Homo sapiens: one gene and its partners. The protein of the gene in region 2 interacts with the protein of the main gene of each other region in a pairwise test. Each region holds a gene or a part of one and is shown on either strand. Other genes may lie near its edges. The genes, in order: CWF19L2, CEP76, TCEANC and SPG21.

Evidence for each region.
Region 1: the proteins of CEP76 (region 2) and CWF19L2 interact in binary tests that used the Homo sapiens proteins (3 or more experiments, as listed by UniProt).
Region 3: the proteins of CEP76 (region 2) and TCEANC interact in binary tests that used the Homo sapiens proteins (3 or more experiments, as listed by UniProt).
Region 4: the proteins of CEP76 (region 2) and SPG21 interact in binary tests that used the Homo sapiens proteins (3 or more experiments, as listed by UniProt).

What each region holds. Positions count from the first base shown.
Region 1 is NC_000011.10:107,426,802-107,433,830, reverse strand, and holds part of CWF19L2 (CWF19-like protein 2), read left to right. Parts: intron 1-81; coding exon 82-197; intron 198-4,379; coding exon 4,380-5,032; intron 5,033-7,029.
Region 2 is NC_000018.10:12,685,723-12,692,751, forward strand, and holds part of CEP76 (centrosomal protein of 76 kDa), read right to left. Parts: intron 5,766-7,029; coding exon 5,637-5,765; intron 729-5,636; coding exon 540-728; intron 1-539. UniProt on the Homo sapiens protein: Centrosomal protein involved in regulation of centriole duplication. Required to limit centriole duplication to once per cell cycle by preventing centriole reduplication.
Region 3 is NC_000023.11:13,656,112-13,663,140, reverse strand, and holds part of TCEANC (transcription elongation factor A N-terminal and central domain-containing protein), read right to left. Parts: intron 3,490-7,029; 5' UTR 3,455-3,489; coding exon of another isoform or gene 3,373-3,454; intron 2,111-3,372; 5' UTR 2,019-2,110; intron 641-2,018; coding exon of another isoform or gene 633-640; coding exon 1-632.
Region 4 is NC_000015.10:64,972,886-64,979,914, forward strand, and holds part of SPG21 (maspardin), read right to left. Parts: intron 3,671-7,029; coding exon 3,590-3,670; intron 1,863-3,589; coding exon 1,717-1,862; intron 1-1,716. UniProt on the Homo sapiens protein: May play a role as a negative regulatory factor in CD4-dependent T-cell activation.

The DNA of each region.
Region 1 (7,029 bases), on a different chromosome or scaffold from region 2:
TTAGAAGTCATAGAAGCAATACATATTAATTGTATGATAACCACATTAAAAGTATAACTAATATTTAATACTGGAATTTAGTTTCAGTGGTAGAAGATGGTGGATTAAGCTGGCTAAGGAAATCTTATCTAAGAATGAAGGAACAAGCTGAGAAACAAAGTAGAAACTTTGAGGACATTGTAGCCGAAAGATATGGGGTGAGTATCTGTTTTAAGGAGATGCCTCTTATTTTCAGAATTAGGTGAAAAATTAAGTGCCTTTAGCTTTGTTTTGTGCCATGAAGAATTGAATTAATATTTCATGTCTTTATACTACTGAAGTAATTTTCTGCTTTTCATTATTATTAAACATGTATCATATTTTTATTGACATAATGAATGTAAAGCTTAAGTATATAAAACTTAAATGTGGGTGTGTTTAATGTAAAAAAAATTTTCTTATTGTGAGAAAATTTAAACAATGCCGGAAAGTCTGCATGGTACACTTCTGGAGGTAACCACTGTTGAAATTTTTTATATTCCAGAGTTAGGTATATTCTAGAGTTTGGGTACTTTACGGATTTTTTTAAAAGAGTGTATATATACTCTTAAAACAATGAAACTGTGCAACAGTATATATTTTAGAACCAGTTTCCCCATCGTTCTGGACAATCTTTCTATTGCAGTAATTACTGATATTCTTTTTTTTCTCTTCAATTGCCGGGGGAAAGCAGGTTTAGAAAGTAGTAAGATTTCTGGAATATATTTTTCCAGATATTTTCCCCCAGAGTTTTAAAGTAGACTCGTAGAATATGCCCTGGCTTTTTAAACTTAATAATGTACACATAGTTGGATGCCAGTAAATATATACATTTTAATGACCTGTTAATTTTTTTAATATATTTATAGGCTTTTCCTTTATTTATTGGTCAGTAGATGACCATTTATATGCTTTTCCTTTCCCTTGTTAGATAGCACTGTGCTGACTGTCTATGCCCAATGCATTTTGCATATTTTTCTTGTTGGTGAATTACTAAAAGTGAAATTGCCTGTTTAAAGGATATAGACATTTAAAGCAAGGTACATATTGCCAGATTTCTCTACAGAAAGAATGAGCAAATCATACTTAAAAATATCTCTTTTATCACATAATTTTCAACAGTAAGATTAGTTCTTATAGTTCATGCTGTTGTGATTGGCAGAGTTTTTAAGTTTTGCTTTTGTTTTTATACATTTGTTTACTGGTGAATTGGAATTTTATTTTTATTTTGAGGTGGAGTCTTGCTCTGTCACCCAGGCTGGAGTGCGGTGGCACGATCTCAGCTCACTGCAACCTCTGCCTCCTCGGTTCAAGTGATTCTCTTGCCTCAGCCTCCCAAGTAGCTGGGACTGCAGGAGCACACCACCACGCCTGGCTAATTTTTGTATTTTTAGTTTTTAGTAGAGACAGGGTTTCACCATATTGGTCAGGCTGGTCTTGAACTCCTGACCTCGTGATCTGCCCACCTTGGCCTCCCACAGTGCTGGGATTACAGGCGTGAGCCACTGCGCCCAGCCGAATTGGAATTTTTTTACATTTATTTTGACCATTTGTATTTTTTAGTGAATTGACTATTGATATTGTTTTCCATTTTTCTTTTGGGATAATAATTTAAGACTTTTTAATAAATCTGTTCAGATTTCTCCCCCTCGGCTTGATGTTTTTTACTTCGTTGATAATTTGCTATGGATAAGTTTTAAATATTTTTACCTATCAAAATCCCTCATATTATTTTTTCATGAATTAGTGCTCTTGGTATAATTTATTGACAGGCCTTCCCCACCCCACAATCGTAAAAATATGCAGCTGTACTTACTTGAGTGCTTGTTCAGTTTTATTTTTTATGTTTTATCTTTAATTTTTCTGGAATATATATTTGTGCATGGTATGAAATAGGCATCAAACTTTGCATAAGTCTTATATAGTTGTTTGCTATATATTGAATGAATTATTTTTTCTCACTAATTTGAAATGACACATTTGTTATACATTAAATTTTCTCATATACATGGGTCTGTTCCTTTACTCTCGGATCTGTTTCATTGATTTTTCTATCTTTTCCTGGAATTTGTATCATACTTTTCTAATTATTGTGGTTTTCAGTAAATTATGCAGATAGCAAATAATAAACACCTACTATGTGGTAGTCACTATGTGATAAATCTCTTGTTAGTCACCAAAAAAATTAGCTTTGCTTTCTTATGTGTTTAGTTTTCTTAGTAAATTTAGTTTAAGCTCAATAGAAATAAATATTTTTCCAAAATTTGTTATAAATTTACGACTCTTTTTGGAGTTTTTATTTAAATTTAACTAAATGTATAGATAAATTAAGGACAACTAGTATCTTTATAATATAGAGTCATCCCATCCCAAAACACTATTTATTTATGCTCTTCAGTATTTTTCTCTGTGCAGTTATTATGCATATGCCATTGAGGTTATTTTTATTTTTTTATATTATAAATTGAATTTTAAAAATGTTTTCTGACTTGGTGTTGGTGCTGGTCGGCCAATTCTTTAAACTTTTATTATCCTAATTTTAAAAATTTTGGGTTATGTGGAAAGGTAGTTATATGCAAATAATTATTTTGTTTTTTTCCTCTCTGTTAATACTTAAACTTTCTTTTCTTCTTGAAATAGTTATAATTTTAGAACTTTGATAACAGGATTGGAAGCTGGTATTGCCTTTTTGTCTAAAGACAAAATAATGACTTTTGCATTTAAGATTAAGAGTATCATGTTTAAGTATCCTTATATTCAAAGTTGAGTAAAAGGTACTTTTTTGTTTTTTTTTAATTTTATTTTTTTATTTTTTATGTTGTATATGTTTAAGGTATGTATTCCATGACGTTTTGATATGCATGGGGAAATAATTACTAGAGTTAAGCAAACTAGTGTATCATTTATCTTACGTAGTTATTCTCCTTTTTTTTTTGTGGTAAAAATACCTAAAATCTACTCTCTTAGCAAATTTTCAGTATATAATGTGATATTATTAACTGTAGTCCTCATACTGTACATCGTATCTCCAGGCTTAGTTATCTTACATAATGGAAACTTCTGACTCTTTGACCTCCATCTTCTCATCCCCTCTCCTTCCAGTAACCACCTTCCTACTTTCTGTTTCTATGTATGATGCATCTTTTCCTTGAAAATTGTTTTAAAGTTTGCAACTACAAGAACAGTTATTTAGACTTGACCATTGCATTTGACATTTGGTTTTTAGCATCTGTTCTTTTTTTCAGAGATCTTTGCCCGAATTCATTGATGGTGTGTCTTAATCATCTTGAGTAATTTTTTTCCCTCAGAATTGCTAGTGATATGCCCTCTGATTCCCTGCATTTTTGAAAATGATTTTCTTTGGCCCATACCAAGGAAGGATAATTTGACTGTGAATTGAATTCTCTATATAGAATTATAGCTTAATTTTGTTTTCAAAATTTAATCTTCATTCTATTATTTACTTATTATTATGGATGAACAGCTGTAAGTCTGTCTTTCCTTTGTGGATAATTTGTTATTTATCTACCCCTATCCATATACAGGCTCACACTTATTCACTCCTTCCCTGATCTAGTCCTTGTAAAGGTTTTTTTTTTTTTCCTTGAGTTTTGAGATTCAGGTATTAGGGTTTTTTTCTGTGTTTTTCTTCTTTCTCCCCCACCCAAGGCTATTGGATGAGTCCTTCTGAGAAATCGGCTGGGGAAATTTTCTTATATATTTTTAAAATTAATGCTCTATTCCCATCATCTTTGCTCCATCTTTCTGGAAGTACTAATAAATGCATATTAGATTTTCTAGAATCAATTGTTCATGTATCTTTTTTTCTTATAACTTACATTTATTTACTACCTTTTCCTAAAATATAGAGAATTCCCAGGTTAATTTAGTTTTCAGCACTGTCTTTTCTTCCTTTTGGTGTATCTTGGCAGCTTTTTGGGACACACAATTTTTTATTTCCAAGTCTTTCTTGTTCTTGAACTATTCTGTTTTTTTTTTTTTTTTTGGTGAGAATCTGTTTTAGCAATTTAACCTCTTGAATCTCACAACCAGTAGGAATTAAGTATTTTTTGCAAAGTTTGTCTCTACTGTTTTCTGTGTTATACTTTGTGTTAGTGCAGAGTGTTTGGTGTAACTGGCTATCCTTTTGGAATCTTTTTGTTATTTAATAATTTTTAATTGTTTACACATTTTTAGAAAGTATTCGTTTCCGTATAGGATGATTGTATGGGTCTTCTTTCACCCCGTTAGTGGGCTTTTCAGTGTGCCACTTGGCAGTGAGTCATACAGTGACATGTGGGGTGCAAGTCACTGAGCCGTTCCTAATTTTAGATATCTTGTTTAATTTTTCTCCTTTGTAGTCAATGGAAATATTTCAGTCAAAATTAGAAGATGCTGAAAAAGCTGCATCCACGAAAGAAGATTATAGACGGGAACGGTGGAGGAAACCCACATATTCAGATAAAGCACAAAATTGTCAAGAAAGTAGAGAATCAGACTTAGTAAAATATGGTAACAGTTCAAGGGATAGATATGCTACAACAGATACTGCAAAAAATAGCAATAATGAAAAATTTATTGGTGATGAAAAAGATAAGAGACCTGGGTCTTTAGAAACGTGTAGAAGAGAATCTAACCCAAGGCAAAATCAAGAGTTTTCTTTTGGCAATTTGAGAGCTAAATTCTTGAGACCCTCTGATGATGAAGAACTGTCATTTCACAGCAAGGGCAGAAAATTTGAACCACTTAGTTCATCTTCAGCATTGGTAGCTCAGGGCTCTTTGTGTAGTGGTTTTAGAAAACCCACCAAGAACAGTGAAGAAAGATTAACATCATGGAGTCGCTCTGATGGGAGAGGAGACAAGAAACATTCAAATCAAAAGCCATCGGAAACCAGTACTGATGAACACCAACATGTTCCAGAAGACCCAAGAGAAAAATCACAAGATGAAGTCTTGAGAGATGACCCTCCAAAAAAAGAACATCTACGGGATACAAAGTCTACATTTGCTGGGTATTTTATCATTTTTTAACCTAATAAGTTAAGATCCAGAGAGTTCAAAGAACAGAACTGTATTTTTAGAACATCAGTTATTAGCTGTGACTATGATCTCACATTTCTTAAAATTGATAGAAGGGGTAAGATATGCAGATTTAACAGGCAGTATTGTGGTATGGATTGCATTTTATTTCATAGGTTTTTTTTTTTTTAAGAGCTGAAAGCAGTAGCTATATTTGTTCAAAATATGTTGCTGCTTTGCAATTTAAAAAACTGAATGAGTTAATGTTTTAAATGTATGTGCTGCAGGAGATATTTTGGTAGATTTTGTTACCAATGCCATTACTTTCTAAGGAAATTATCTTATTGTTGAGTATAATCATAATCATAAATACTGCATGTCTATAGGAAGTCTAGGAGACAAAAGGAAAACACGCTGCCACGGCCCAAATATAAAGTGACAAATACATGCCAGAGATCTTGCAGAGGGGAGCATGAATTATGGTTGTTATTTTGCACAAAGAAAGAAATAATCCACTTTGGGCAATTGACAGATTTTAAAGATAATATTAGAGTTTTAAATATAAAATATATGTTGCATTTATGTAGGGCTGGGTTAGAAGATGAGGAAACCCAGGTTGAATGGGACTAAACCTAAGAAAATTTGCTTTAGAAATTTGCTGGCCCTGTTGGAGATAGCCAGAAAAAAAAGTGTCCAAAGGGTAACAACTTACACGTGAATGATCATTAAAATATGTTTAAAAATAGCACCAAATGAGTGGGACACTAAAGGAAGAGGTTTTAGGAAATAATAGAAACACATGGTTGTAGTAGATAAAAGCACTGTGGTTTGGGGTTGTGAGTCTGATAAATCACTTTTGTTAATGACTCCATCTGAAGCAGTGGATTATAAAACTCAGTGTGTAATTTTCGGTGGGAGGGAGCTGGCAAAATCTGAACTGAGTGATTAAGCCCCAGTCAAATGGACTCTGGTTCACATCAGGGCTTTCCTCCCAGGAAGTGGAAGGAGAAATCCAATTGTATTGACTAAACAAACATGGCAGGGATTATTGTCTAAGGCTGTATGCATATGTAATTGTCCAGTCTTCACTCCAGGTGCCCTGGGTGGTAGACTATTTCCAGTTCCCAGTCACTAGGGGAATGAGGCTCTTATTTCCTGATATCATTAGGATTGGGTTAGCATTTGGATGATCTGTAGGCCTTCTTCTGTGACTGTAGCTAAGCAAAATGTCTGCAAAGTAATACCACACGATTAGTATTCCAACCGGTTGTCTGATTGCTGCATATTTGTATGTCTTATTTAAGTTGTAAGCTTCTGATAGATACACTATAATACAGGCACTCACTAAAAGCTGTGTATGTATATAATTTTTCGGTTTGAAGACAGCACTCACTAAAAGCTATATATGTGTGTATATATATGTATGTATACATGTAATTTTTCCTTTGAAGACAGTATTCTTTGTTCGCTGTGTTAATTTGATGGTACAGAGGGTTTGAGGCTTTCTATGAATTCTGTGACTGGCTGGAGAGGGAAAGAAAAATCTAGGAATCATCCAAAAAAAAAGATTCCTGAGAATGTAGAGTGGTTGTAAAGTAGGAGACCAAGACAGGACCTTGAAGAATGCCTAGTTGTTACAAATAATCTTTGTCTTATAAGTGAATGGTCATGATTGGAAAAATTAGTTGAATTAGTTTTTACTTCTTTGTATGTATTGTTCATATATCTTTACCTTTCTTGTTATTTACACCAGTATTATTTTTTAGAACATGCCATTTGTAATCTTAATAAATGTATATGTATAAAATTTAAACAATATAGACAGAAGAGTATAAAACAAGAATATGAAGCATAGGTGAGTATAAAATGAAAAAGTAAATCTCCCTTTCATGTCACTTCCAACCCTAATCCTATTTGCCAGGTTAACAGTGTTGGTAGTGTCTTTCCAAATTTTTTAGTGTATTTGAAAATGTGTAATATATATATTTAA
Region 2 (7,029 bases):
CAGGGTCCAAGTGATTCTCCTGCCTCAGCCTCCTGAGTAGCTGGGATTACAGGCACACGACACCATGCCCAGATAATTTTTTGTATTTTAGTAGAGATAGGGTTTCACCATGTTGCCCAGACTGGTCTTGAACTCCTGACCTCAGGTGATCCACCTGCCTCAGCCTCCCAAAATGCTGGGATACAGGCATGAGCCACTGCGGCCAGCCAAAATGGTATAGTATTTTATATATAACCTAAGCACATCCTCCTATATACTTTAAATCACCTCTAAATTGTTTAAAAATCTCAATACAATGTAAATGCTACATAAACGTTGTTACACACCATTTTTTAATTTGTACTATTTTTTATTATTGTAATTTTTTACTTTTGTAAGTATTTTTGATCTGCAGTTGGTTGAATCTACAGATACAGAACCTGTGGGTACAGAGGGTTGACTATATGTGCATTTTTCTAAGGCATTCTTTTACAAATGGATTACAAATTCAGAGTAACTATGATATACTGCTACTTAATTCTATTATGTGTGTATAATACCTTGTTTCTACAGAGAAAGGCCAGCAGAGTGCACCACTGCTCCTGTTTACCTCCTCCTCCAATAACAGGGGCTCGTTCATAACCAAGGACATTAACAAATCTTGCTGCTTGCCTTGGAGTATCAAGAAGCCGTCCAGCTCGAAGTGGTTTAACATAGGAACAGACTGGTCTATTTATCCCATTTTCATCCTAGGGAAAAGGGGAAAAACATCTGTAATGACATATTAATCATCCCCAATTATGTTTTTTTCAAATACATTAATGTAGGATAAAATAATTCAGCATACCATTGATCGAGTGCTTACCTTGTATCCAGTATTTGGCTGCAAAGTGCTGTGTATATAATTTCCCTTAATCCTCATCTCCGTTATTTTCATTTTATAGATGAAAACTGAGGAGCTACAGCTATTATGCAACAGAGCCAGGTTCAAGCTCTGAGCTGTTTTACTCCAAAGGCTGTGGCAATAAGAACTCCTCTGAGAAATGTGTGGGTAGGTATGTAGGGGAGGGAGAGGTGCTCTAAGCTGAAGTATTTTTTCACATTACCATATAGAATTTAACAACATATAGCCAGACAGAACAAATAACTCTTCTGATTGGCTGATATAACAGAAATGATTGTAGCTTGATTCTAGTTTGTTTCCATTAGGGCCTCAAATTTAGAGATCCACAGGAAACAATAATTTGTTAACCAAGTCAATTGAAAGCAAAATTTCAAAAAACACTCTAGAAAAAGTTTTACATCCTAAATACAGGATATCTCCTGGTGTTGGTGCTGAATAACTTGTATGCATATATAGGTCTCTGATGACTGTCTACCACTGTGATTTTACAGTGAGTATTACCAAAGTCCACAATCTCTTTACCTTCATGGTTACTGATACGGCACTGTGAAAGGGCCACTTACTATTCAAGATTTGGAGATGACCTACCCTCCCTGATAGGGTTCCTCAGGACATGAGATCTAACCCAGCCAAAAGAAACACCATCTGTTTGAATTATCAGAACCACTGATGTCTTTCTCCACAACCAGAACATCTTTTTCCAATATAGTCCCATACTTTAGCAAGGAAAAAAAAACTCACTTATTTACATTTGATTATAATGAGAAAGATCATTAATTTTTATGTTGCAGAGCAACTTGGCTATAGATTCCACTCATACCTATAGTTCTCAACTATAGAAGGCATCAATTTTTTTTTTTTTTTTTTTGAGACAGAGTCTCGCTGTTGTCCAGGCTGGAGTGCAGTAGTGTGATTTCGGCTCGCTGCAACCTCCGCCCATGGGTTCAAGCGATTCTTGTGCCTCGGCCTCCTGAGTAGCTGGGATTACAGGTATGTGCCACCACACCTGGCTAATTTTTGTATTTTTGTAGAGATGGGGTTTCACGATGTTGACCAGGCTTGGTCTCAAACTCCTGACCTCAAGTGATCCGCCCACCTCGACCTCCCAAAGTGCTGGTATTACAGGTGTGAGCCACTGTGCCTGGCCTAGAGGGCACCGATTTTTAAAACAGAGGATTATTATTCTAATTTTGGGGGGATGTAGAGAACTATGGTTTTCTTTTACATGAACTTAGCATTACTAATAATCTAGTGTGGTATAAGAATACTAAGTCCTGAAATCACAAACTAAATATTAAAAGAATATCCTCAATCCTCAAGTGATTTACAACATTTTCTTAAAACCTAATGGCCTTAGGCTGGGCACGGTGGCTCACGCCTGTAATCCCAGCACTTTGGGAGGCCAAGGTGGGTGGATCACGAGGTCAGGAGATCAATTCCATCCTGGCTAACATGGTGAAACCCCATCTCCACTAAAAATACAAAAAAAATTAGCCAGGCATGTGGTCCCAGCAACTTAGGAGGCTGAGGCAGGAGAATGGCATGAATCTGGGAGGCGGAGCTTGCAGTGAGCCGAGATCGTGCCACTGCACTCCAGCCTGGGCGAGAGCGAGACTCCATCTCAAAAAAAAAAAAAAAAAAACAAAACCTAGTGGCCTTAAAGTTCAATTTCTGTAACTTATTTTAAAGTTTCTTGCACTAAAAAGTTCAAAAAGCATCATTCAATGAATTACTACTATACTATAGCAAAACCAGCTAACAAAGGGTAAAAAGAATAATGAATTTTTAAGTATAATGGCCACGGCAAATCTACAGATCTTTGGTTAGTATTGAGGTGCAGGACTGTTACTCCTATTCTTACAAATCCACTAACAGGCAAGAAAAGATGAGCACATAAGAAGTGGAAGCATTTGCCTAAGTCAATCATCAATAGTAGCATCTTAGAATGTAAGATATATCATTTTATTACAGCAATATTCTAATATTATCTAAATATATCCCCACAAGCTACTTAACTGTTTTGAAAAGTTAATATTTCAACCTCTGAATGGGCACTGTCCAGTGAGAAAATCACTAACCATTATGAGCTATTTAAATTTTAATTAAAATTTAAAATTCAATTATTTTTAGTCATAATAGCCACATTTTGAATGCTCAGTACATGGCTGGTGGCTACCATACTGGTTAGCACAGATACAGAACATTTCCATCATTGCAAAAAGTTCTTGGCCAGGTGTGGTGGCTCACGCCTATGATCCCAGCACTTTGGGAGGCCGAGGCGGGCGGGTCATGAGGTCAGGAGATCGAGACCATCCTGGCTAACACAGTGAAACCCCATCTCTACTAAAAACACAAAAAATTAGCCAGGCATGGTGGCACGTGCCTGTAGTCCCAGCTACTTGGGAGGCTGAGGCAGGAGAATCACTTGAATCTGGGAGGTGGAGGTTGCAGTGAGCCAAGATCGCACCACTGCACTCAACCCTGGGTGACTGAGACTCTGTCTCACAACAACAACAAAAAAAAGTTCTTTACTTTACTTTCAGTGCTGGATACATTAGAAATTTTTTTGGCCTGGATATGTATATTAACGTTTTGATTTATAACTATTGTTTTTATAATTAGATTGACTGTTTTACACTGTTGTTGTTTAATTTCAGAACTAGTCAAATACAGGAAGCAGCAAGAAACAGTTCTGAGGAATCTAAATTAAATCAGCATTTTATTTACTCTATGTATATGGAAAGAGGTGGCATAAACCAAAAAGGCACCAGTTGAAACTCCAATTTGACACAGACTTTGCCATGACTGAGTTGCTGTTTGGCCTTGAAAAGACTGTTCACTTCTCTAACCTTCATACTGTTTACAAAAAGAGCCAATGCCTGGCCACTTGACAATCTTATATGGTTACTATGAGACTAAATTACGTTCTATGGTTCAAATCTTAAAATGAATTCTGAGAGAGGAAGTCGTTTAAGTAATATTTCCTAAAAGAAAATCCCACTTCCTTGACTTCCTTAGTGCATTTCAACTTCTTCCTCCTCTTTGATCCTGCCATTTCTCTGATTCACTGCCTCACTCCATCCTGAGTCCTCTCTAGTTCCTAATTCCACGTGGCAATGAATAAATGCCTCAGACTATATAGACAGCAGGGAGCCAGTTTATATATATATATATGTATATTTTTTGTCGTTGTTATTGTTTTGAGACAGAGTCTCACTCTGTTGCCCAGGCTGGAGTGCAATGGCGTGATCTTCGCTCACTGCAACCTCCGCCTCCCGGGTTAAGCAATTCTCCTGCCTCAGCCTCCTGACTAACTGGGATTATAGGTGCCTGCCACCAAGCCTGGCTAATTTTTGTATTTTTAGTAGAGACAAGGTTTCGCCATGTTGGCCAGGCTGGTCTCAAACCCCTGACCTCAGAGGATCCACCTGCCTCGGCCTCCCCAAGTGCTGGGATTACAGGCGTGAGCCACCGCGCCCGGCCAGGAAGCCAGTTACATTTTGATTGGTTTCTCCTTGCCTTTGTCCTGATAATGTTGTTACCTTGCCAACCAGTCATTCAATATATAAACAACGCTATCAGAAAGTCAGAAGCCATTTCCCTTATTCCCACCTCTAGTCAACCTCTCATTCCCAAGCTCCCCATCTGGACACTAAACCACTTTTAGCCTGTTCCAAAATCTAGGGAAAGTAGGGTAAAGCTGGATGAATGTACAGGATTTGAGAAACTTAACTTAAAATAATATACTACACTATACTTATATGAAAGCATCTGTATGAGGCTGAATATATACAAAATATTTGAACTGTTCCTTAGGAGTTACAAAAAATACGTGAACCTGACCACATTTTTTGTTGTTTTTTTTTTTGAGACGGAGTCTTGCTGTGTTGCCCAGGCCGGACTGCAGTGGTGCGATCTCGGCTCACTGCAAGCTCCGCCTCCCGGGTTCACGCCATTCTCCTGCCTCAGCCTCCCGAGTAGCTGCGACTATAGGAGCCCGCCATCACGCCCGGCTAATTTTTTGTGTTTTTAGTAGAAACGGGGTTTCACCGTGTTAGCCAGGATGGTCTCGATCTCCTGACCTCTTGATCCACCCACCTCGGCCTCCCCAAGTGCTGGGATTACAGGCGTGAGCCACCGCGCCTAGCTGACCTGACCATATATTTTATATTGGTCTGTTAAAGAGAGAAAATGGGTTTAGGACTCAGGAAAAATGGAGGCAGAGATATATAGTTGAAATGCTTCAGTTAAACATTACTGGTCACTGGCTTAGAAGTCGTGGTTATATACAATTTTTTTTAAAACCCTAACAAAAAATATATATATGCCCAGAGCCCCCCCCCGTTCTGCACACAAGAGCTGGATTTACATATAACCTGCAAAGTGTCCAAATGGTTAATTATTTAGCACTAAGTATCAAGCAAATACACATTCCAAGTTAAACAAAATGGATTTTCATCTACTTTAAATCAAATATATTCAGAAAGGGTTTAAAACACAATAATTGATTCAACCTGAGAAAGGTGATTTTTCAAAAACCCACAATAACTGAAATTGAAAGTAAAATAAGACATAGATTGATCTTGCCACTCACTATGCAGTGAAAGAGAATATTACAAAATCAGCATTTTATTTTACAAATACACTTTTATTTTTTGGAATACATTTTACAAATAAATATTAAATGAAATTTACACACATAACAGTAAATCTCAAATACAGGCATAAAATTATTCTAATATAATTTACAAACCTGTGCAAAAATCTTAACCAGTCGTGAGTTGTGTGAGGGTCGAATTTGCAAATATTCTCTCCACCACTGCTTAGCATATACAAGAAATAATCGCTCTTTCTCTGCAGTTTTCTGACGTTCCAAAGCAAGCTTGAAATTGAAAAAAATATTTTTCAATTTCTATTCATTATCTTTAATTACTACAAAATATGTAGCAAATTTATCTACTTCTCTACATCATTACCACCCTAATCTGAGTCATCATCATCTTCTATAAGAGCCTCCTGACTTCCCTATTTCTACACTTACCCCTAGTACAATCCCATCTCCATACAATAATCATAAGTCACCTTTTTTTCCTCAAAGACAGAATTTTTTTTTTTTTTTTGGTTGTGGAGGATGCAGTCTTGCTCTGTCGCCCAGGCTGGAGTGCAGTGGCAAGATCTCAGCTCACTGCAACCTCTGCCTCCCATGTTCAAGCAATTCTCCTGCCTCAGCCTCCTGAGTAGCTGGGACTACAGGCACGTGCCACCACACTCAGCTAAATTTTTTTTTGTATTTTTAGTAGAGACAGGGTTTCACCACATTGGTCAAGCTAGTCTTGAACTCCTGAGCTCATGATCCGCCCGCCTTGGCCTCCCAAAGTGCTGGGATTACCGCGCCTGGCCCAGAAATTTTTAAATAGTAAATCATACAAGCCGGGCATGGTGGCTCACGCCTGTAATCACAACATTTTGGGAGGCCAAGGCAGGTGGATCATTTGAGGTCAGGGGTTCGAGACCAGCCTGGCCAACATGGTGAAACCCCATCTCAACTAAAAATACAAAAACTAGCTGGGGATGGTGGTACATGCCTGTAATCCCAGCTACTCGGGAGGCTGAGGCAGGAGAATTGCTTGAACCCGGGAGGCAGAGGTTGCAGTGAGCCGAGTTCATGCCACCGTGCTCCACCCTGGGCGATAGAGTGAGACTCTATCTCAAAAAAAAAAAAAACATACTGTCATTCTCTTGTTAAAACACTTCATTCTCCATCACATTGCAAAATACCTGCCCTGGCCTATGAACTCTGGCCCGACTATCTCATTTTCTCCTCTCTCCCCAACCCACTACGCTCTAGCCACACAGGGCTTTCGGTCCTCCATAGGGGCTTTTGTTCTAGGCTGTTCCCAGTGCTGGAAGCTCAGCCCCAATCTTTGCATGGCTGGTTACTTCCTGTTGTTCAGACTCTTTCCCTACCTTAGTCACTCGACCTATAATTAGCCACCCAATAACCACTGTATCATATCACCTGTAATAATTCTCCATAAAACACCTTCTACTATCTGATTATTTTGTTTGCTGACTTATTGTTTCTCCTGCACTAGAATCTAAACTCCTTGAGAGCAAGCTGTCTAGCTGTCTGCTGCCCTATACAC
Region 3 (7,029 bases), on a different chromosome or scaffold from region 2:
GTAAAAACATGCTCTTCAATTTCTCTTGCAAAGTTTTGCCACAAATCAGCTTTGGGTTGATCTGTGGAAGAACTAGTTAAAGCTGCGTAAAGAAGCTCTATGCATTTAGTTCTCATGGGTGTTGTGGGATCCAGCAACTCACTCGATCTCTTGCCAGTGGATTCAGGGTCACCATCCCCAAAATGCTCTTCCTTAGGTTTCAATTGAATGGCTCTATTTTCAGGCACAATCATTTCACTGAGTTTTGCAACGTCTTGGGAAGACAGAGAATTCGAGCTGCAGATGCCCAGTGTCTCATTCTGACTTGGGTCATGAGAAGGTCCTGAATTTTCTTCTTTATTACCCCTCACAGGAAATAATTTAGGGCTGTTCCTCGCTTTGGAGTGAGTCTGCTTATAAACAGCTTTCCACTTTGATAGCAAACACTTGGCTTTCTTTTTCAAAGCCACAGAGGGGCAGTTTTTGAGGACTCTGTACACAGCTCTGACCACATCTGTCTCCTGGAGATGCTCCTTAGTCACATAAATTGTTTCTAGCTCAGTAAGGTGGTTGCCAAGATCCTCAAAATTCCTTTTGGACATCAGTTGCTCAATAAGAGAAGCTCTGGCAGCTATCTGGTTCTTGTCAGACATCTTTACAGCTGCAAAGAAAAAAGAGGTTTCAGTTTTCTTAAGTTTGCCGTTGCTAGTCGCAGCTTCTGGATACTAAAATAGCACTTTCTGTCAGTTACCTAGGCAATGTTTTCCGAAAGAGTCATGTAATACAAATGTATGCGACACGCTAGAAAATGGAATCTTTAAGGTGACGGTATGGTTTACTCTCAAGAGTTTAATTCCTACGAGTGAAAAACAAACAAACAGCATTGCAGAGCCTCTACATAACATCTGCTTAAGAGGCTTGCCGGAGGATCTGCTATAGCTTTTCCACCTCCAATTTTACAAATCAATGATCTTTCTAGATTAGTCAATCCATTTGGGCGGAATCCGGTGGTCATGTTGGAGGTGAAATCATGCCGGTGTCAGCATCAATATGGCAATGCTGAACAGTGCTAGACAATTTTTCCCCAGAGTCAGCTATATAACTGAACTACTTGCTCATTTCATAATCTTTAAAGTGGTACTCTTCTGAAAATAAAAGAGAAACAAGACAGAAAGGGTTTGCTAATGTCTCAAGCAATCTAAGGAAAATGTGAGACAGCACAGGTTGAAAAGCAGCTAGAGATACGTCTGCGGGTCCCAAAAGCCAACAGGCTACACTGTGCTGCCTTAGGAGTCTTCTGAACAAGGGAAAGGTTCAGACTCAATGATCCAGATGATTTATGACTTTAGACTAACTGGTTCTTACATTTTGGTTTTGTTAATTTTTAAAAAATTTTTAAGTGTAAAGAGTTGCTCAATGATTATGTCTGTGTGAATTTCATCCTAGGCAGGCAAATGTTTACTTTTATCTATGCAGTCTATTTTTTCCCTCCACATAATGTACATAATCTTGTCTATATAATACCCTTGGATCTATATTTATCTGTCTGGTCTAAATGTGAACATAAGCATCTTGATGGCAGGGACTGTGTCTTTTCAAAAATCCATGGGCTCTGTTTTATAGCACTTGATATTAAATAATCACCACCGAACATACACAGGCTAAGAACACTGAAGTGTTTAGAGAGAGAATTCACGCAGTCTTCCCAGACACCATATGACAAGTGACATAAAACATAATGACCTTTTAGTAATTCTACTTCCATAAATTTACTTTAAGGAAATGAGAGATGTGGAGACTGCATATGTAAGAATTTTCTTCTAAGGAGAAATTAGAAGGCCCTCAAATGGTTAAATGGAGAATGGTTAAAAATATGGCACACTCCTAGGATACAGTAATATAACCATTTAAAAATCATGTATTTAGATAATATTTAACGACATGGAAAAATGGTCATAAAGTTAGGTGAAAAACAATCAAGATGTAAAACTATATAAAAGACTAAACAGTTAACATATGGGCCGGGCATGGTGACTCACCCTGTAATCCCAGCACTTTGGGAGGCCGAGGCAGGCAGATCACGAGGTCAGGAGATCGAGACCATCCTGGCTAACATGGTGAAACCCCATCTCTACTAAAAATACAAAAAATTAGCCGGGTGTGGTGGCGGGCACCTGTAGTCCTAGCTACTTGGGAGGCTGAAGCAGGAGAATGGCATGAACCTGGAAGGCGGAGTTTGCAGTGAGCCAAGATCGTGCCACTGCACTCCAGCCTGGGCAACACAGCAAGACTCTGTCTAAAAAAAAATAATAATAAATAAATGAATAAACCAGTTATCATATGACCCAGCAGATCCAAGAGAAATGAAAACATATGTCCACACAAAAACTTGTATACAAATGTTCATAGCAGTATTATTCACAATAGCCAAAAATGGGAAATAATCGAAATGTCCATCAACTGATGAATGGATAAATAAAATGTGATTTATCCACACAACAGAATATTATTCTGCCATGAAAAGGAATGAAGTATTGATACAGTTACAACATGGATGAACCTTGAAAACATTATGCTGAGCAGAAGCAGCCAGACAGAAAAGTCCACATATTGTATGATTTTATTTACATGAAATGTCCAAAACAGGCAAATCTATAGAGACAGAAAATAGATCAGTTGTTGACTAGGTAGGGTAGGGCAGAAGGGCAGTGGGGTGAAGGAGGAGGAGCAGCTGATAAAGTTCAGGGATTTTCTTGGGAGGTGGTGGCACACATAAATCTTCTCAAGATTTATTTGTGGTGATGGGTTATACAACTGAGTATACTAAAAAACACTGAATTGTACACTTTAGGTGAACTGTATGGTGCGTGAATTACATCTGAATAAAGGTGTTATTTAAAAATAGAATTTGATCCAAATTTTATTTAAGAATTACATGTGAAAAGACTGAAAAGAGATACACAAAATTTTAAAGAGGGGCATTTTCTGAATGGTAAGATTTTAGGTAATTTTCATTTGTTATTTTCCTCTTCTGTATTTTCTGTGATGAGCATGTATTGCTTTCATAATCAGAAAAGTTATTGGTCTAACGCAATTTCATGATAAACTATATGCACTTAAGATATACCTACTGAAAAATGGTATGAGCAATGAATCAATCACCTTCTACCCACCTCCCCTCTGGAACGAGAATGTACATAACACTACTGAACTGTATACTTAAAAAGGCTTAAGACAGGCTGGGCGTGGTGGCTCACACCTGCAATCCCAGCACTTTGGGAGGCCAAGGTGGGTGGATCATGAGGTCAAGAGATCGAGTCTATCCTGGCCAACATGGTGAAACCTTGTCTCCACCAAAAATACAAAAAGTTAGCTGGATGTAGTGGCGCATACCTGTAGTCCCAGCTACTCGGAAGGCCGAGGCAGGAGAATTGCTTGAACCCGGGAGGCAGAGTTTGCGGTGAGCCGAGATCATGCCACTGCACTCCAACCTGGCGACAGAGCGAGACTCTGTCAAAAAAAAAAAAAAAAAAGGGCTTAACACAGTAAATTTTATGTTTTGTATATTTTATCACAATTAAAATTTTTTAAAGAAATATGAAGAAAAGGTCAATAAAAGAACATATAAAATGAAGAGCAAAGTGCTTTTTGGTTGTTTATACATAAATACATTAACTTCTATAGATTTACTCATTTTGCTGGTAAGACAAATTGCTGCTTTCACCCCACTGAAACCCCGAAGCTATAATTACAATTCCCTTTAAGAATTACCTTGAAACTCAGACCTTCAGTTGAGAAATTCTGACCTGAGTCAAATATTGCTTAACTTCCTTTTGGGCGCTGTAGGCCCATCTCTTATTCACCATCTTTCTCAATGCCTAGCAAACCTCCATCCTGATTTCAATAGTAATGCATATAGAATGCAGGCACATTGAATGTTTCTTCTTTGTTAGGAAACTTTTCAACGAGTCGGGGAGGGCTCAAGTATATTGAATAACTTGAAACTTTATCACTGTGACACAACTGCGTGACTTCAAGATCTGAAGCAGACAATTCTGAGAGAAATGTTCGCTAATAGAGGGTGTGAATATTTTTTATTTTTCTGTGCTGTCTTGCCTGTTGTTTATTAAGAGTTTGATTCTTAGGAAGACCTCTTTTACTGTATGCAGTCTTTAAAAGTGGAATTTTAAAAAGGCAAAAAAGAATTATCTTTTAAGTGCTGGTTCACAATAATTAGGAAAATTACATAAGATCCTGAATTGATGGCCCTTTGTGAAACTAACTTTAAAACAAAACAAAACTGACTGCCCCAGGTTTTCTACATTCCAGCTCCCTCTGGTGGTTAAAAATGTAGGACTCAGACTCTTGGTTATGTAAGGGTACTTAACTCTTCATATTTGGGGATAAAGTTTGAGGGGAGATGCACCTGTTTGAGATGCAGTAATCGATTTCTGAGGCAATTATGAATACTTATCTGAATGCAAAGCCACAGGTGATATAGCCACTCTTAAGAGACGATATTCACATTTCAGAGGGAAGGTGGGTAGAAGGTGATTGATTCATTTCTCACCATACCATTTTTCAGTATCTTAAATGTATACAGTTTATCATGAAATTATATTAGACCAATAACTTTTCTGATTATGAAAACAATGCATGCTCATCACAGAAAATACAGAAAAGAGTAAAAGAACAAATGAAAATTACCTAAAATCTCACCATTCAGAAAATGCCCCTCTTTAAAATTTTGCGTATCTCTTCAGTCTTTCCATATGTAATTCTTAAGTAAAATTTGGACCAGATTCTATTTTTAAATAACACCTTTATTCAGATGTAATTCACATACCATACAATTCCCCTAAAGTGTATAATTCAGTGGCTTTTAGTATATTCACAGTTGTGTAACCCATCACCACAAATAAATCAACTTTAGAAGATTTATCTGTGCCACCACCCCCCAAGAAAATCCCTGCACTTTAGCAGCCACTCCTCTTTCTTCACTCCACTGCCCTTCTGTCCCACCCCACCAAGTCAACAACTAATCTTTTTTCTGTCTGTATAGATTTGCTGTCTGGACATTTCATGTGAATAAAATCATACAGTATGTGGTCTTTTGTATCTGGCTTCTTCTATTCAGCATAACGTTTTCAAGGTTCATCCATGTTGTAGCATTTTCAGTACTTCATTCCTTTTCATGGCAGAATAATATTATGTTGTGTGGATAAACCACATTTTATTTATCCATTCATCAGTTGATGGACATTTTGATTATTTCCCATTTTTGGCTATTATGAATAATACTGCTATGAACATTTGTGTACAAGTGTGTGTGTGTTTTTTTTTTTTTTTTTTTTGAGATGGAGTCTCGCTCTGTCACCCATGCTGGAGTGCAGTGGTGCAATCTTGGCTCACTGCAATCTACACCTCCTGGGTTCAAGTGATTCTCGTGCCTCAGACTCCTGAGTAGCTAGGATTACAGGCATGTGCCACCACGCCCGGCTACTTTTTGTATTTTTAGTAGAGACAGGGTTTCATCATGTTGGCCAGCCTGGTCTCGAACTCCTGACCTCAGGTGATCCACCTGCCTTGGCCTCCCAAAGTGCTGGGATTACAGGCATGTGCCACCACACCCGGCCTGTGTACAAGTTTTTGCATGGACATATGTTTTCATTTATCTTGAATCTGCTGGATTATATAACTGTTTAATCTTTCATATAGTTTTGCATCTTGATTTTTTTTCACTTAGCTTTAGGACTATTTTTCCACATCATTAAATATTCTCTAAAAACACGATTTTTAAATGGTTATGTTATTGGATCATCCTAGGAGTTTGCGATAGTTTTTAATCATTCTCCTATTTGGGGCCTTCCAGTTTCTCCTAAGTTTGAAGAAAATGCGTACATATGCGGTCTCCACATCTCTCGTTTCCTTAAAGTGAATTCACAGAAGTAGAATTACTAAAAGGTAAATATGTTTTATGTCACTTGTCATATGGTGTCTGGGAAGATTGTGTGAATTCTCTCTCTAAACACTTCAGTGTTCTTAGCCTGTGTATGTTCGGTGGTGATTATTTAATATCAAGTGCTATAAAACAGAGCCCATGGATTTTTGAAAAGACACAGTCCCTGCCATCAAGATGCTTATGTCCAGCACTCTTTTCATCCTCCCAAACTGAAAACTCTGCACCCATTAAACAACTCCTCATTCTTCCCTCCCTCCAGCCCCTGGCAATCACCACTCGACTTTCTGTCTCTATGGATGAGACTACTCTAGGTACTTCATGTGAGTGGAATCATACAGTATTTCTCTTTTTGTGACTGGCTTATTTCACTTAGCATAATGTCCTCAAGGTTCATCCATGTTGTAGCATGTGTCAGAACTTTCTTCCTTTTTAAGAATGAATAATATTCCATTGTCTATACATAACACATTTTGTTTATCCATTCAAATGTCAACGGATACTTGAGTTGCTTCTGGCTTTTGGCCATTGTGAATAACACTGCTGTGAGCACTGGTATACCAATCTCTCTTTGAGACCCTGCTTTCAATTCTTCAGAGTATATACTCAAAAATGGAATTGCTGGATCATATGGTAATTCTATTTTTAATTTTTTGAGGACCCACTGTATTGTTTTCCATTCCCTTCCACATTTTTAACAGGATTTAAATCCAGTCAAACTTTCTAGTCCTCTGTGGGACCATCATGTGGATATAAAGGATTTATTGCCCTAGGAGGGTATAATGTGGAAGCCATTGAAATACAAAATTCTGACAATTGCCATAAAAAGACAAGGTAAGGCATATGTCCAGCTTAGTTCTACATAGTTCATTCAATAAATATATATTAGGGATTGAGTATGTGCTAGATGCTGAGCCTAAAGAGACAGTCTCTGCCTTGAAGGAGCTGATAGCCTAGTGGGAGTAATACTGACAAGAAACTGGCCAGTTACAACACATGTGGAATTTCAACATGGACAGACACTGGCTGCTAGGGGAAACACACGCAGGATGGCACCAAACCCTATCTGGGCTCGCCATCATCTGGACAGC
Region 4 (7,029 bases), on a different chromosome or scaffold from region 2:
AGTGCAATTTTAAGTAGATGTGAAAACGATATTTCCCTATACATTATTTGAAAACACTGATCATACAGATGTGTTTACTCACTGGGCTTTTTTTTTGAAGTAGGGTCTTGCTCTGTCACCCAGCCTGGAGTACAGAGGCACAGTTGTGGCTCACTGCAGCCTTGAACTCTTGGGCTCAAGCGATCCTCCTGCCTCAGCCTCCTGAGTAGCTAGGACTGCAGGTGCATACCATGATACCTGGCTAATTTATTATTATTGTTATTTGTAGAGATGGGGTCTCACTATGTTGCTCAGGCTGGTTTCAAACTCTTGGCCTGAAGTGATCCTCCTGTCTTGGCCTCCCAAAGTGTTGGGAGTACGGCATGAGCCATCACACCTGGCCACTGGGCTTTATTTTAAGGCTAGAGCCTCGCCTTGCCAGCAATGAAAGAAGTGCACAGTAAGCCAGCTGTATGGCATCATAGATACCTACCAATTACTTAAAATGATAAAATCAATGAAAGGATGGCTCCTAGGAAACAAGTACCCCACTGGCTGCACCCAAAGCATTTCCACCATTTTGTTTTTGGTTTGTTTTTTTTTTGAGATGGAGTTTCGCTCCTGTTGCCTAGGCTGGAGTGCAATGGCGTGATCTCGGCTCACCACAACCTCCGCATCCTGGGTTCAAGTGATTCTCCTGCCTCAGCCTCCTGAGTAGCTGGGATTATAGGCATGTGCCACCTTGCCCAGCTAATTTTGTATTTTTAGTAGACAGGGTTTCTCCACGTTGGTCAGGCTGGTCTCGAACTCCCGACCTCAGGTGATCCGGCCGCCTCGGCCTCCCAAAGTGCTGGGATTACAGGTGTGAGCCACCGCACCCAGCCTCATTTCCACCATTTCTATCTTTTGGAAGAACAGACTAATATCAAGGGTCATGATGTGCAGAACATCTGTTGACAGACCAAATGCTCTATTCTTTCCATTTGGAGAACATATCTCAAGGAAATAAATTGGAAAGGGAAAAAACCCAGTAATTTGTACAAAGATTTACTGTAGAATGTGATGAAGAATTGGGAAAAGCCAAATGCCTAATAAAACTATGTCAGTCAATACACGGAACTGTTTACACATAATAATAAGTGGGATAAACAGAACATGGTATTAGTTACATAGAAATACTGAATAAAAACAGCAAAAGTATATTAATGAATATTAAACAAAATTTAAAAATTTAAGGTAATAAAAAAAGCTGAATTTAGAGTTCATTCAATTCTTTCCTTTTGCAAAGGTAATTGTTTCTAATTTTAAAAGCCAAGAAAGAGCCGGGCACAGTGGCTCATGCCTGTAATCCCAGAACTTTGGGAGGCCAAGGTGGGCAGATGGCTTGAGCCCGGGAGTTAGAGACCAGCATGGGACAACATGGCAAAACCTCATCTGTACAAAAATATACAGAAATTAACCAGGTGTGGTGCCATGCATGCCTGCCTGTAGTTCCAGCTACTTGGGAGGCTGAGGTAGGAGGATCGCTTGAGCCTGGGAAATAAAGGCTGCAGTAAGCTGTGATTGCACCACTGCACTTCAGCCTGGGTGACAGAGCAAGACTCTGTCTCAAAAAAAAAGCCAAGGAAGTTGCAGAATATAGAAGTAGATATAAGTCTTCCCTTCCTAATGTACCAAACACTCAAAAGCCAACATTTTCAAAATTTCACTGAACAAAAAAAGTAATTTTGTTCTTACCTGTTTGCAGTCCAAGTTTGGTTGAAGATAGAGGTGTCACTGAAGGAATTGCAGAGGATTAGGGAATGGACTCTAGGAGATTTGTGAGTGTATTCAGCAAATTTCTGGGCCAAAAAGCCTCCCAAAGAAGCGCCAAAAAGATGAACCTAATTATAAACAAATATAAGGCAGATTCTGAAATACTGATCAATCTTGAACCTGAGTATTAAAAAGTTGCTTCAATTATCACTAACCACAGAATATGTTATCACTAGCCAATAGACTAAAATATTTACAGCAGCTAGAAATTTAGAAAATATTGTATTTAAATGCAATTTATACAGTCCATCAAGATAATACAACTTGGCATCCAAGTTATATAATTAAAAAAAATATCATTCACAGATTGCATTAGAAAACAAAACCAGTCCAGGCACGGTGGCTCACACCTGTAATCCCAGCACTTTGGGAGGCCGAGGCAGGCAGATCACGAGGTCAGGAGTTCGAGACCAGCCTAGCCAGCATGGTGAAACCGTCTCTACTAAAAATACAAAAAAACTAGCCAGGCATGGTGGTGCGTGCCTGTAGTCCCAGCTACTCGGGAGGCTGAGGCAGCAGAATCGCTTGAACCTGGCAGGCGGAGGTTGCAGTGAGCCAAGATCGCACCACTGCACTCCAGCCTGGGCAACAGAGCGAGACTCCGTCTTAAAAAAAAAAAAAAAAAGAAAAGAAAAAAAGAAACCAACAAAACCAAGCTAGGGAAATATGGAAAAGGCCTGTATACTAAAAATACAAAAATTAGCCAGGCATGGTGGTACGTGCCTAGAGTCCTAGCTACTTGGGAGGTTGAGGTGGGAGGATCGCTTGAGCCCAAAAGGTTGAGGCTGCAGTGAGCCATGATTGCACCACCGCACTCCAGCCTGGGCAACAAAGTGAAAGCCTGTCTCAAAAAAAAAAAAAAAGAAAAAACTCAAAACCACTTAGTGGTTTATGTCTAAGAAAACTGTGATTCAGTAATTCCACCCCTAAACACATACCTAAGAGAACTGAAAACATATGTCAACACAAAAACTTGTACATGAATGTTCATGGCAGCATTATTCATGATATCCAAAGGGTAAAAACAACCCAAATGTGCATCAGCTGATGAATCGTTAAACAAGATATGGCATATTTATAAAAATATGATTTAACTGTAAAGAGAAACGAAGTATTGATTCCGGCTTCAACATGAATGAACCTTAAACTCACAATGCTAAATAAAAAAAGCCAGTCAAAAAGACCACATATGATACGATTCCACTTATGTAAAATATCTAGAATAGGCAAATCCATAGAGATAAAAATAAATTAGGTTGCAGGGCTAGTAGGGGGGAAGATGAGGACCGACTGCTAATGAATATGAGGTTTTTGGCATTAAAAAAATTATAAAACATTGACTGCAGTGATGGTTGCACATACCTGGGAGTATACTGAAAAACATGGAACTGTATACTTAAAAGGGTAAATTATATGGTATATGAATTATGTTGCAATAAAGCTATTATTAAAAAATAAAAGAGGGCTCGGCACGGTGGCTCACGCCTGTAATCCCAGCACTTAGGGAGGCTGAGGCGGGCGGATCACTTGAGGTCAGGAGTTTGAGAGCAGCCTGGCCAACCTGGCGAAACCCCATCTTTACTAAAAATACAAAAACTAGCCGGGCATGGTGGCACACGCCTGTAATCCCAGCTATTTTGGAGACTGAGGCAGGAGAATCACTTGAATCCGGGAGGTGGAGGTTGCGGTGAGCCGAGATCGCGCCACTGCACTCCAGCCTGGGTGACAGAGTGAGACTTCATCTCAAAAAATAAAAAAAAAATTGTATGTATGTAATTAGTTTCAGGGTACTCACTTTATCCAATTGTAAATGGTCTAAAAGTTTTCTGAATCCATCACAGAACTCGAGATGGTCCCAATAAACTGGATACTGCAACTGAAATAATAACGATAATTTTATTTTTAAAAATCATAAAAGTAAAAATGCAACTCACGTATTTGAAAAACTTAGGACTCAAACACTGACATTTCTCGTTTGCTCAAGCGCTGCTCCTTATTCAAAATATGTAAAAATAAGCTCTCACTTTTTACTAAACTTCATATTTCACATTTTTCTAACAGACCAAATTAAAAGAGTATAAAAAGTAAGCACACTCTAATGATATTACGTGAGTAACAATTTCAATTCCCATCAATTTCCTTTCTAAATAGCTGAAAAAGTCTGGGGTTCAAGGATGAATACAGCAGAACCCATTCCAGTAAAGAAATACCGTTTTCTCTTAAATCTAATTTCATTCAGAATTATGGCTCAGGAGAGATGGAAACAAAATTTGTTCTAAGGAGAGCTTCCTCTCTTTTTGGTAGCATTTCTTTAAGAGGGTATTCAGTAAAATTGTTCCTCTTCTTTTAAATGACTTAGTTACTCTATTTCATTTATTGTACTTTGGGGTGTCTGTTTGTTTCTTGAGACAGAGTCTCCTCTGTTGCCCAGGCTGGAGTGCAGCGGCGCGATCTCGACTCATGCCACCTCCGCCTCCCGGGTTTGAACGATTCTCCTACCTCAGCCTCCTGAGTAGCTGAGATTACAGATGTCCACCACCACACCCAGCTGATTTTTGTATTTTTAGTACAGACACAGTTTTGCCATGTTGGCCAGGCTAGTCTCGAACTCCTGACCTCAAGTGATCTAACTGCCTTGGCCTCCCAAAGTGTTGGAATTTTAGGCGTGAGTCACTCCACCCAGCTTGTTTGTTTTTGTGATAGGGTCTCACTCTCTCTCACCCAGGCTGGAGTGCATTGGCACGATTGTAGCTCACTGCAGCCACAACCTCTTGGGTGCAAGCGATTCTCCCACCTCAGCCCCCCGGTAGCTGGAATCACAGGCATGCACCACCATGCCTGGCTAATTTTTATATGTATACTTTTTTGTAGAAATGGGGTTTTGCCACGTTGCCCAGGCTGGTCTTGAACTCCTGGGCTCAAGCGATTTGCCTGCCTCAAGCAATATAACTGCCTTAACTTCCCAAAGTGCTGGGATTACGGGTGTGAGCCACCATGCCAGGCTACTGTACTTCTGTTTGTGACAAAAGAAGTATGGTACTTGACTATACGTAGCCTATCTATTAATGCTGGCAATGATGAGGAAAAAGAAGTACAAGTCACAAACTCATTTCTAAGGGACTCAGGTTTGTCCCCTAAGAATTCCTTTTTTTTGTTTGTTTGAACTGGGGTCTCGCTCTGTCGCCCAGGCTGGAGTGCAGTGGCGCGATCTCGGCTCACTGCAACCTCCACCTCCCAGGTTCAAGCGATTCTCCTGCCTCAGTCTCCTGAGTAGCTGGGACTACAGGCATGTGCCACCACACCCGACTAATTTTTTGTTGTTGTTGTATTTTTAGTAGAGACGGGGTTTCACCATGTTAGCCAGGATGGTCTCGATCTCCTGATCTTGTGATCCGCCTGCCTCGGCCTCCCAAAGTGCTGGGATTACAGGCGTGAGCCACCGCGCCTGGCCAAGAATTCCTTTTTTATATACATATAAAACCAACTGGCTGGGCGTGGTGGCTCACGCTTGCAATCCCAGCGCTTTGGGAGGCCGAGGCGGGTGAATCACTTGAGGTCAGGAGTTCGAGACCAGCCTGGACAACATGGTGAAACCCCATCTCTACTAAAAAATACAAAAATTAGCCAGGCATGGTGACAGGCACCTGTAATCCCAGCTACTGGGGAAGCTGAGGCATGAGAATTGCTTGAGCCTGAGAGGTGGAGGTTGCATGAGCCGAGATCATACTACTGCACTCTAGCCTGAGTGACAGAGTGAGACTCCATCTCCAAAAAACAAAAACAAAAACAAAAAAACTCCCCCAAAAACCTCGTCTAACAGGCTTACTGTTTAAGCACTTAGGTTCATTTTGTTATTGATGAATCACTGGAATGGATACTGCCATATGAATTATGGAATCATTTTAGATTTGATGTATGACTTTCATTATTAAAATTCTATTTGTGGATAAGACTTCCACCATTCCAAGAAAGAATGGGGAACTGATTCTACCTAGCAGAAAGTTTGAGAATTTGAGTCAGATGATAGCCTAAAAGAAAGGGGATGATACTTTCATGGAGTCTTTAATTTATAAATATCCATGCCCACACAGGTGACAAAATTATATGCAACTTAATACATACAAACAAATGAGTTCAAGCAGAACTGGGGAAGCCTGAATGAGATTGGTAGATTGTAGTAATATCAATATCCTGGTTGTGATTTTGTACTACAGTTTTGCAAAGGTTCGGCAGAAACTGGGGAAATGTGTAAAAGGTATATTTCTCTTTACTATTTTTTACACTGCATGTGAATCTACAATTACAACAACAAAAAAATTTAAATTAAAAAGATCTGTGCATTTTAACTGCTAGATACTAACAAATATTAAATAAGTTCCAAAACCTCATGGAGCTGAACATTCTGATCACATCTTGATGACAAAATAATTTTGAAGACACTGTTGACCTTTTCTTGATTAACTCTCCTCCTAATGAAACAGGGAAAGCGCACAACAAGAACCTTGAGAGTGAAGAAGAAACATCCAGCCAGAAGCCAAGGCTCTCATGACCTGCCACTGTGGAGCGAGAAACACACTGCTGGACAGCACTCCCGAGTGGGACGGGCGCCTATGGGTTGCTCGGTTTCCCCCTCCCTGGCTGATCAACAGGGGCCACCAAAAATGGTAGTGTCATGTCTCAGGCTGCAGAGGGCTGGGATGAGGGCAGTTCCCACCCTGTTCTAGAATGCTGTTTGTGAAGAGGAATGACTGAAAATCTGAACAAAGGAGGATTATGTTGCAGAGGCTCAAACATGTCACGTGAGGAATGGTTAAAGAAGCTGGAGAAATTAAGCCAGAGAAGAAAAGACCCAGGAGAAAAGCAGCAGGTAGTGATGATAACTGTTTTCTCAAGTAAGAGACGGGCTCTCAGGAGGAAGAGGAACTGATTTCCTTTGTGTGGCCTCAGTTGGTGGTAACCTCAGTAGAATTTTCAGTTACCTTCCAAAAGGAGAGACGTGACCTGCCTTTTCATCCCTTTAAACAGTAAATAAAACGTACACTAACAGCAGTACTCCCACTGGGAGTACCACTTACAAGTGAATACTGCAGGCGACTGCCAGCTAAAGAGACTCTCTCCTTCCTGGAAAATTAGGAGACCAATGTCCTGACCAATGTGGAAGCATGCAAAAAAAAAAAAAAAAAAAAAAATCAGTCACCAGGAAGAGTGCCTTTCCCACACACCTTTCTCCCAGAG